Homo sapiens: one gene and its partner. The protein of the gene in region 1 interacts with the protein of each later gene in a pairwise test. Each region holds a gene or a part of one and is shown on either strand. Other genes may lie near its edges.

Evidence for each region.
Region 2: the proteins of PAK1 (region 1) and ADD1 interact in binary tests that used the Homo sapiens proteins (3 or more experiments, as listed by UniProt).

Annotation. Positions count from the first base shown.
Region 1 is NC_000011.10:77,462,978-77,468,045, forward strand, and holds part of PAK1 (serine/threonine-protein kinase PAK 1), read right to left. Parts: intron 1-5,068. UniProt on the Homo sapiens protein: Protein kinase involved in intracellular signaling pathways downstream of integrins and receptor-type kinases that plays an important role in cytoskeleton dynamics, in cell adhesion, migration, proliferation, apoptosis, mitosis, and in vesicle-mediated transport processes.
Region 2 is NC_000004.12:2,923,246-2,928,172, forward strand, and holds part of ADD1 (alpha-adducin), read left to right. Parts: intron 1-2,768; coding exon 2,769-2,867; intron 2,868-3,396; coding exon of another isoform or gene 3,397-3,430; intron 3,431-4,925; coding exon 4,926-4,927. UniProt on the Homo sapiens protein: Membrane-cytoskeleton-associated protein that promotes the assembly of the spectrin-actin network. Binds to calmodulin.

The DNA.
Region 1 (5,068 bases):
AAAAAGGTGGGTGGGGGTGGGGTGGGGGGGCTTTTAGGAAAAAGGGTACTATGTTAAAACTCATTCTCTTGAAGGTGCCAAGCCTTAAAGAGAAATGATTCTCTGGAACTTAGGGTCTAGTAGGGTAGACAGATATTCATCAAATAATGCCACAGAGTATCAAGTAAGAGTATAGTTTCATGTAAGCAAATAATGATATGAATGCTAAAGTGTTTACGGGTGTACTGATATCTGCAACTTATTTTGAAATGCTTCAAAATAAGACAGGTTAATGAATGGATCAAGGGATACACAGACATGCGATAAAGAAAACACAGCAAAATACCACAGAATCTAAATAATGGGTATATGGGTGTTCACTGCACATACTCCCCTGCCAATGTTTTATTTAAAAAAAATTTTTAACGTACATAAAATTAAAGAAATATAGTATAAAATGAAACAGTTTCAAGAAGAGTCAGCCTACAGGAAAATTTTTATGAAAAATTCAGTCTTTGAGAGGGTCCACCTACCACAGATAGCCAGAGGCAGTCTCAAGACCACTTGGAAACTTGTATTAATCAATTTATTCTTCATCAATATTTATTTACTTGTTTGTTTTAGCTAACAATGAAATAGAGCATTCTACTCCCAAGATACTATGCTAAAAGTGCTTGTTCATCTCCTCATTCTAGCACTCTAGAGAGGAGAAGAGAGACTTTGGCAATTACTGTCTCCATCTATAAAATCAGACTTGATAATCCCCTCTCAGTCCCTTCGGATTAACTAGGATATTACACAGGGTAGCGTTTTGAAAGGTCTCTTCCTCCCACTCCAACTTCATCTCATACCATTTACTCTTGCTTCCTATACAACAGCCATAATTTTTTTTAGTTCCTCTATGTTGAGGTAAACCAGCATTATCCAACTGAAAGATACGGTTAGCCTTAAAGAAAAGCCACATATGTAATCTCAAATTTTCTAGTAGCCATATTTTAAAGTTTGTAAAGAGGTGAAATTAATTTTAAAATACATTTAACCCAATATATTCAAAATATTAACAATTCAACATATAACCAATATAAAAAGTTAATGAGTTATTTTACATTATTTTTTCAGTATTGTCTTCAAACTCTGGTATGTATTTTATTTACACTTACAGTGCATCTCTATGTGAATCAGTCAGTGTGCTCAACAGCCACACTGGCTAAGTAGCTACCATATTGAGCAGCACATCTCTAAACTTTTACCTACTCTCAGGGCCTTTGTGCATTTAAAATGTTCCCTCTGCCTGACATGCTTTTTCCCCCTCAGTGTTCTGCATGACTAAAATCTATTTATCATGCACATCTCAGTTTAAAAGCATCATTTCCTCAATGAGGTCTTTTCCTTATCACTCCAAAATTCTCTACATTAGTCCTTTATCTCTTTTGTAGGACTTATCAAAATCTGCAACTGTCCACTTGTATATCTACTTACTTTTCTCTGTATTACCCTCTGGAATGTAATCTTTGTAAGAGCAAGGACAAGGACCATGTCTGTATTATTTATGAGTGTATCCTTAGTACTAAGTACAATGCTTGGCACACAGGAAGAAATCAATAAATATGTGTAGTCTAATTAAGGAATAAATAGAAGCACTATAGAGCTGTACAGATGCTCCTTGACTTATGATTAGGTTACGACCTGATAAACCCAACTTACACTGAAATACTTTAAGTCAAAAATGCATTTAATACACCTAACATACCAAACATCGTAGCTCAGCCTACCCAACCTTAAACATACTCAGAACACTTACGTTCACCTACAGTTATGCAAAATCATCTAACACAGAGTCTATTTTTTAATAAAGTGATGAATATCTCATGTAATTTATTCAATACTGCACTGAAAGTGATTGGATGGGTATTCCAAGTATGGTTTCTACTGAATGCATATTGCTTTTACACCATCATAAAGTCGAAAAATCATTAAGTTGAACCCCTGTAAGTCAGGGACCAGCTGTATTGGATTGGTACATACATGAAAGAGTGTGTGTGTGTGTGTGTGTGTGTCTGTGTGTGTGTCTGTGTGTGTGTGAAGAATATACTCAGCAGCCATTCCTAACTGTCCTGGAACCTTTACCACATAGTCAACTAAGTCAATTATCCGGCAAGTGGCAATGGATAGTAAAAAAACGATTTTTTGAAAGAGTTAGAGGGAACTATAAATATATTTTACCATTCTCCTAGGAACCTACAATTTTTTAAAAAGTGCCACTGGTCAGGGCAGCACCCAAATGATCAGGAACAGGTGACCAGATTTGGAGACAGAAAATATGAATTAAAGATTCCAGTTTGTAACTTCCCAGCTACATAATCATGCCACTTAACTTCTGTTCATTTATAAAAATATGATGGCTAAAGAACAGAATTAAGTTAAATGAGACTCTATATAAAAGGGTTTTGAAAACAGTAAAGCACAAAAATTATATATATAATCCTATATATAATCTCTAGAAAGTCCAGGAAACTTGGACTTTTCAAGTCTATCACAATGGGCTTTCTCATTTTGCTCACCTGGTTCTTTATTTTTTTTTAAGTTACTTTACAAATTACATATGTAATTTATTAAATTAAGCAAAATCTATCCTGGATACCAAAAAAATCTCAGACTCTGGACTGGTGAGATAATTCCATATGAGAAAATAAGTGGGAGGGAATGTTATAAAATAGTAATTCTTGGCCGGGCAAAGTGGCTCATGCCTGTAATTCCAGCACGTTGGGAGGCTGAGGCGGGCAGTTCACTTGAGTCCAGCCTGGGCAACACGGCAAAACCCTGTCTCTACAAAAAATACAAAAATTAGCTGGGCTTAGTAGCATGCCCCTGTGGTCCCAGCTACTCGGAGACTAAAGTGAGACGATTGCTTGAGCCCGGGAGGGCAGCACTGCAGTGAGCTATGATGGAGCTACTGTACTCCAACCTGGATGACAGAGCAAGACCCTGTCTCAAAAAAATAAATAAATAAAATATTAATAGTAATTCTCTAACAGGTAATTGGAGAACCAAGAGCCCCTCCAACTATACCAAGTCCCTCTTTACCCATCCCCAAAACTGGCAATTTACATTTTGTTCCTGTAGCCCATTGGGAACTATTTCCATAGTGAAATACTGTTACTGATGGACTACATCCCAGTGTATCACAGAGAAAGGGTGAGGGCAGGGAGTAGGTGAGAAGGTTAAGAATCACTGTCGAAATATTCAAGCAAAGAAGTTGGCATCAAATTCAACACATTTATATGACAGCTAAGGAAAACTGAGTCTCAGGACGGTTAAGTGACTTGCTGTGGTTACACAGTAATAATTTTTAAAAATGTCTTCAAGGCCGGGCGAGGTGGCTCACGCCTGTAATCCCAGCACTTTGGGAGGCAGAAGCGGGCAGATCACAAGGTCAGGAGATTGAGACCATCCTGGCTAACACGGTGAAACCCTGTCTCTACTAAAAATACAAAAAATTAGCCGGGCATGGTGGCACGCACCTGTGGTCCCAGCTACTTGGGAGGCTGAGGCAGGGGAATGGCGTGAACCCGGGAGGCAGAGCTTGCGGTGAGCCGACATCGCATCACTGCACTCCAGCCTGGGCGACAGAGCAAGACTCCATCTCAAAAAAAAAAAAAAGTCTTCAAATGACAGCTTGATGTCTCTGCTCCTAAATTTCCTCATCTGTAAAATGAGTTAGCCAACATCAGTCTAGCACATTACAGCTTCCAAATTGTTGTGCATATATCCACAGAGCTTACCTGATTCCCTACCACACCGCAAAAGTCTAAGACGGCTATGGTGTAATAGAAAAAGCATGATGAACTAAACAATCATAAGAACCTGGCTTCAGATCTTAGCTGTGCTGTATAGCCTCAGCAAGTCAATTAACCTCTTTGTGTTTTCTTCTATCAAATGAATATAAAACAACACCTGTCCTAGCTAACCCAGGGGATTGTCCAAAGAATAAAGTCAGATAATATCAGTAAAAGTATTTTGTACATTATACAAAAGGCCCTTCATCATCTGGGCCCTGCCTCCTCTCTGCTCTCACGCCTCCCCACTTTACACCCTATCTTCTAAGCATACTAAACTACACAGGGCTCCCCAAACAGGCTCTCAAATCTTCTGCTCACATATTGCTCTCTCTTTCAAGAGGGTCCATCATCTCCCCTTTCTTCTCACCCCTCCCTGACTGTGCTTCGTTAACCCCTGATCATTTTTCAGAACCCATCTTAGATGTCACCTCCTTTAAGAATGCTTGCCAGGCCACCCCCATTTCAAGTGCAGCAGATGCCCTTCCTCTGTGTTCACATGGCACTTGCACTTATCTCCATATTTTTGTCATTTTTTGTCTCAATGTAGTGTAATTGTCTATGCACATGTCTGTTTCTCCCGGAAACTATAAACCCAAGGGTAGAGGCTATGATTCATCTGTTTATTCAGAACCTATGACAATGCCTGATGCATAATATGTATTTAGCAAATGAATGAACTTTAAATGGCAATAAAATATTACTTTTCATATAATACTTACATAAGACATTTATGCAAAACATTGTTAATATAAGGCAGTGCTTCTCAACTTTGCATATCAGAATCACCTATAAACCTTTCAAAATAGAGATGCCAAGGCAACTCTTTACATCTTCACAAGTAATTCAAGTGCATAGCCGAAATTAAAACCACTGCTACACACAATCATAGTCATAAAATTACAAACTACTCTACCTAACATCTATATAGCTCAGTATCTTACAATTCACTTTTACATATATTATTAATCTTCACAAGAATTCTGTAAGTTAGGTATTATTTCTTTCAAATGAACAAATAGAGATTTAAATAAGTGTCCAAGTAGCTCTTTGTCTAACTTCAAATTTTGTGCTCTTCCTTAAACCCTCCCTTGGTAAGTGCAGTAATACACAAATCAAGGGTTCCACCAGTGAGGAAGACATCAATCTTAGCTTTGTGGGAATCCAGGAGGAAATAAGGAAAGCTGGACCTTAAAGATATAGGCAGGCAGATGAGGGTGGAAGCCATGCATATACTGTCATTGTCATTTGCC
Region 2 (4,927 bases), on another chromosome or scaffold:
GAAACCCAGGGTCCTGGTGTCATGGGCAGCCAAGGGAATTTCCTGGTCTGTGGATTGCGAAGACCGTGGGAAAAGCGTAGTATTTGAGCTGGAATGCACTGTTTCTCAAGCCACAGTCCCTCATGGCTTCCCTTGGCTAGATGAGGGAGTTCCCCGACTCCTTGCACTTCCTGGGTGAGGCAACACCCCACCCTGCTTTGGCTCGCCCTCCGTGGGCTGCACCCACTGTCTAACCAGTCCCAGGGAGATGAGCCAGGTACCTCAGTTGGAAATGCAGAAATCATCCACCTTCTGCGTTGATCTCACTGGGAGCTGCAGATCGGAGCTGTTCCTATTCGGCCATGTTGCCTGTCACCCTGACATTTGTCTCTTTACGAACACAGTATTTCTGTCTGTTGAAGCTTCACCGGGGAGAGACCTCCTTTACTCAGTTTGATTCATTAACACTCAGCATTGCTGAGCAGTCATTGTGCCGGGCACATGCCCAGTGCTATTGTGCGTACATCTCATCTCATTCTCAAAGTAACCCTGAGAGATAGGTCATTTTCCCCCGGCTGGAGCAGAGGAATAGGGAGCTCAGACAGGGCGGCTCGCGAGAACGAGGTTGTGCGTGGCCGAGCCCTGATTTGGACAGAAGCGCACTGCCTTCCTCACTGAGTCTTTGGTCACAGCAGTCAGCCCCGGCCTCTGTGCAGGGGGACGCTCTGAACGTCCTTACTGTGCTTGTGTGTAGGGCTTGGGGTTTCTGACAGAAATTCTCTTTCTCCATAAACCTTGAGGGTTTCCTGTGCAGGTGTGGTCACAGGCCGGAGGGTGAAAATGCTGACTGCCCTGGCATGTGCCCAGGTCCCATCAGGAATGGCTGGTGCAGCCTGTACTTCTCTTGGTAGCCCGCTGACAAAGGCGGTCTTGTTTTTGTCAAAGATGGGGCAGTCTTAAAATGAATACAAATAAGCGGCTCAAGTTTGAGACCCTCACGGAGCAGGTGGTTTCAAATGTCAGGCTTTGAAAAGGAAATGTTGAGAACTAATGAGAGAAGCAGGTCTCCAAAGCCTATTCCTTGAGGGCTTTTGGGCATCAGCTGCTTTTCCCCCAAGCTCCCTGCTGCCAGCTCTCTTGTCCACTAGGCTCTGAGCAGCCTTGGTGCTGGCACCAAGAAGAACCAGGGGCACAGGGACCCCTGCCAGGAGGCTCCCGCCAGCATCCTCAGGGCCGTAAGCTCCAACTCAGGTTTTTACTGAAACCTCAGTGTGCTTCTCAGTCCTCCGGGGTCAGCCTTGCTGGAGCCACCTTGTTGTGTGGGACTGACTGTTGCTCTCCTGGGCCGTCGTCATCCTGGGAGCTAGGCACTCCTCCTAAGAGGACCTCTTCACCGGTTTTTGTCTCGTTCTAGACCAGCCACTGCATTACGTAGTTGTGACTGAAATTTGAGTTGCTGAATTGTTTTTCAGTGTCACACCGCTATTTACTATTCAGGCCGCCACACACACCAGGCCCTGCTGCTGGTTGTCTCCCTCCAGTGAAGCTTTGTCTGAGCCATTGCTGTAATTACCTGCCTTAGAGCGAGAACTGGAGGTAGTCAGCTTGAGCTGTGGGTCATGTGGCCTCCTCCTAGTTTCTGTGCACATGTACACAGACATGTGTCTGCCCTTTGGAGTCTCCTGGGATCTGAGTAACCTGGATTGTTTTTAAAAACAAGTCAAACAAGATATGTGGAGTTTCCCCCCGATGTGTGAGGCTCCTTCAGCAGGGCTGTGATGGCAGCTGAGTGGATGGGGACAGGCTCTGGCCGTGCTCTGTGATCACAGAGCTGTCAGCAGGAGAACCCACAGGAGGTCTGATCTGGCCCTTGGCATGGGCTGAGGGGAGAATGTGCCACAGGTAAAATGCAGGCTGGCTGCCAGAGGTCAGCACCTTTTCCCGGTTGAGGCTGTATGCTCACTCAGCTAGGTGGTATGGCGGCCTTTTTATGGACACCTGGCTTCTGGAAGGTAGCTGCCAACGTGGTACTTGGGGAGGCGAGCCAGCTGTTAGGGTGGGAGCAGAGGCCCTGGGAGCTCAGAAGGATGATGATAGCTGCTGGTTCAAAATACGGACCTGCTGATCCTAAGCTATTAATCTTAAACTTCTGAAATAAAGACAGAGATGGAAGGAGTTAGAATAGTGCTGGTCCATATTTTCCCCGAAATGAGAAGTAGACTTGGAATCCTTTTCTATATCCAGGATCCTAGTTCCTGCATTTTTTCCTCTGGTTCTTATTAGCATTTTTCACTTTAAAAAGTAAAAATACGTATTACAGTTGCCAAGTTTAAATTATTGGGATAAAATGCCCTACCACAGAATTAAAACCAAAATAATGCTCATGTGATGTCCCTTAAGGTGGTGAGTGGGTTCAGGACCCTCAGCCACCTGCTCAGCAGGGAGAAGGCAGGGAGGGAGGGGTCCCTACTCGCACAGGACAGCGGGGGACAGGCCAGGGCATACCATTCGAGTCCATCACAGAAGTGGCTCTGGCAGACTCTCTTTGGAATAAGAATAGAAATAAGTTTTGTATCTGAAGTTGGTTAAGTTTCTCTGAAATTCGCATCAGTCAACACCCAGGTCACAGCTTCCTTTATCCTCTCTTGGAGAGGATCAGGGAAAGGGTTGAGAGAGCCCTGCCTTCTCAGAGGGCGGCCGAGCGGGCTGCCCCATCTGCCATGGAGGCAGGTACAGGCTCATGGCGTGGCGTCCACAGCTCCTACCATATCCTTCTTGCTTCTCTGCAGAGAATCTGGACGAGGCTAGAGAACAGAAAGAAAAGAGTCCTCCAGACCAGCCTGCGGTCCCCCACCCGCCTCCCAGCACTCCCATCAAGCTGGAGGAAGGTGAGCTCTGGGTGGCAGCGGCCGCCACTGTGGGAGGGTGCACGGCTCGTGCGCGCTGTGGCGGAATGTGGCGGGAGTCGTGTTAACAGCAACACGGAAGTGTGTGCTTGCATCAGCGCCAGGACGTGACACCTTTCTCCTCCTATATTGCTTCTGTCCTGGGTAACTCCAGGCAAAACAGATTTGTATGTGAGCTGTGACCAGGTAGGAAGGCCGGCCTCGGGGGTCGGAACCCACCATGGTTGCTGGTGTCCACGTTGCCCATTGCTCGCACACTCCTCGTGCCGTGTTGTCATGCAGATGCCACCTTCGGAGGTGCCCTCCGCTGTGTGAGCCACACGCCGGCTGCCTCTCAGCCACCGTGTGTCTGTGGTGTGTGATCCCGGGTGTCTGTCCCTCGGTCTCGTACATCCATGTCTCTCGTGAAGCCCGTGGCCCTGCCTTTCTTCTTCTGTAACCTGATGGCTGTGACTGAATGCATAGATTCTCTCCTTGTGCTTTTTTCTCCCTGTGGCTGCGTCACAAGCAGGAGACGGATGCGCTAGAGAGTACCTGTTACCCTAGTAAGTACCGTGCTGCCTCCGCTCTCCACCGGTGCCCTGCGCTTTGCCTCATTCTCCTGCTTCTTTGTTGTTTATTAAGTTTTGTTTTCTGTTTATTTAAAATAAAAACAGAAGCCCCCCTTTTTTGTACCCAGTCCCTTGGAGGCCTTCCTGGAAGTGGTTCAGTCACCTGAGTGCTGTGCTGCCTTCAGCGGCAGCGGGTACCTCCACGCACCTAGGTGCCATGGAGCACTCTGGGCCTCAGGAGTTCCTACCTCCAGCCTTTGAGGGTCTCTTTGGATTGCTTGGTGGGAGGGTTTTGCCACACTGGATCAGATGTAAGTGCAGCCTCGGTTCAGACAGGGTGGGGTTCTGCCACCTGCCGTGTGGGGTCAGATTGCCTTGGACCTTTGCTGAAGCTGGTCCAAAGGAGGTGGGCAGAGGAGCGGATATTGGACCCTCGTAAAGCAGTGTGATGTTCACTCAGATGATGGCAGCTCTCCAGAGCGAGTGCCCTGGGGCAGCCTCCGTCCTAGCATCAGCCACACCATGCCCAGCAGAGCGGGCCCCATCTCCTCAGGGGGAGCGGCGCCTGTGTGCCCATAGCCCTTTCCCGGTTCTCATGAAGCGTGGCCTGGAATTAGCCTGGGGCAGCTGGCAGGGTGGGGGTGCTTCCAGCTTCCCAAAGGTAAAGCACTGAGAGTTTGGGGCCTGGGCCTCCTGTGCTGCTCCTAACCACTCAGCTGACTCCCCTGGCCCTGATGTGTGGCTTGATTTTTAAACACTAAACAGCTTGTGGTGCCTAACCTGTCAGTTGCTGGTAACTTTGTAGGCCGTTTACGAATGGACAGAGCGGGTGCCCGGGTAAGTGCAAGGAAGGCGCCCCCAGGCTGTGTCCTCAGGGCCGCTGTGCTCCTTCACAGATGGCCACTCCTGATGCTGGGTGGAGTTTTTGCCCCCACTCCTTGCCTTACAGGCCATCTCTTTCCTTTTAATTAACTTCCAGCCTAAACGGCTTTGTTCTTTTGGATGTTGACGTCACACAACGTGCTGTGGGAGTTATGCACGATTTTCTACTGGCTGTTTTGGGGGAGACCAGGTGTTGTAGACCCAAATTTAGACTTAATTTCAGTACTACTAGTACATGCCCTTAGGGTGACAGGGCAGACTTCTCGTCACATAATGAAAGCGGGACGTCGCTCCTTTAGTCGTCCTCAGCTTGTGCTGCAGTCTGTCTTTCCGGCGGGGGGACCCAGGCCTGGGACGGAGTCTGGTGTTGTCAGCACACTGCCCACCAGAAGGAGCTAAAAACTACCCCGAGACTGAGTCTGTATTTTATGATATTAGCTCCATCCAGCCGTACAGTAGAGTAGACCATATTTTAAGTTTCTTGTCTTGGTAAAAATCTGTAGAGTAAAATAAAATGGCAGTTTCGTGTGTGGGGCTCCCCCATCTCAAGCTGCCCTTTGAGATCTGGGCAGGAACCCTTAATCCCATCTCTCACCTCACCCACTAGAC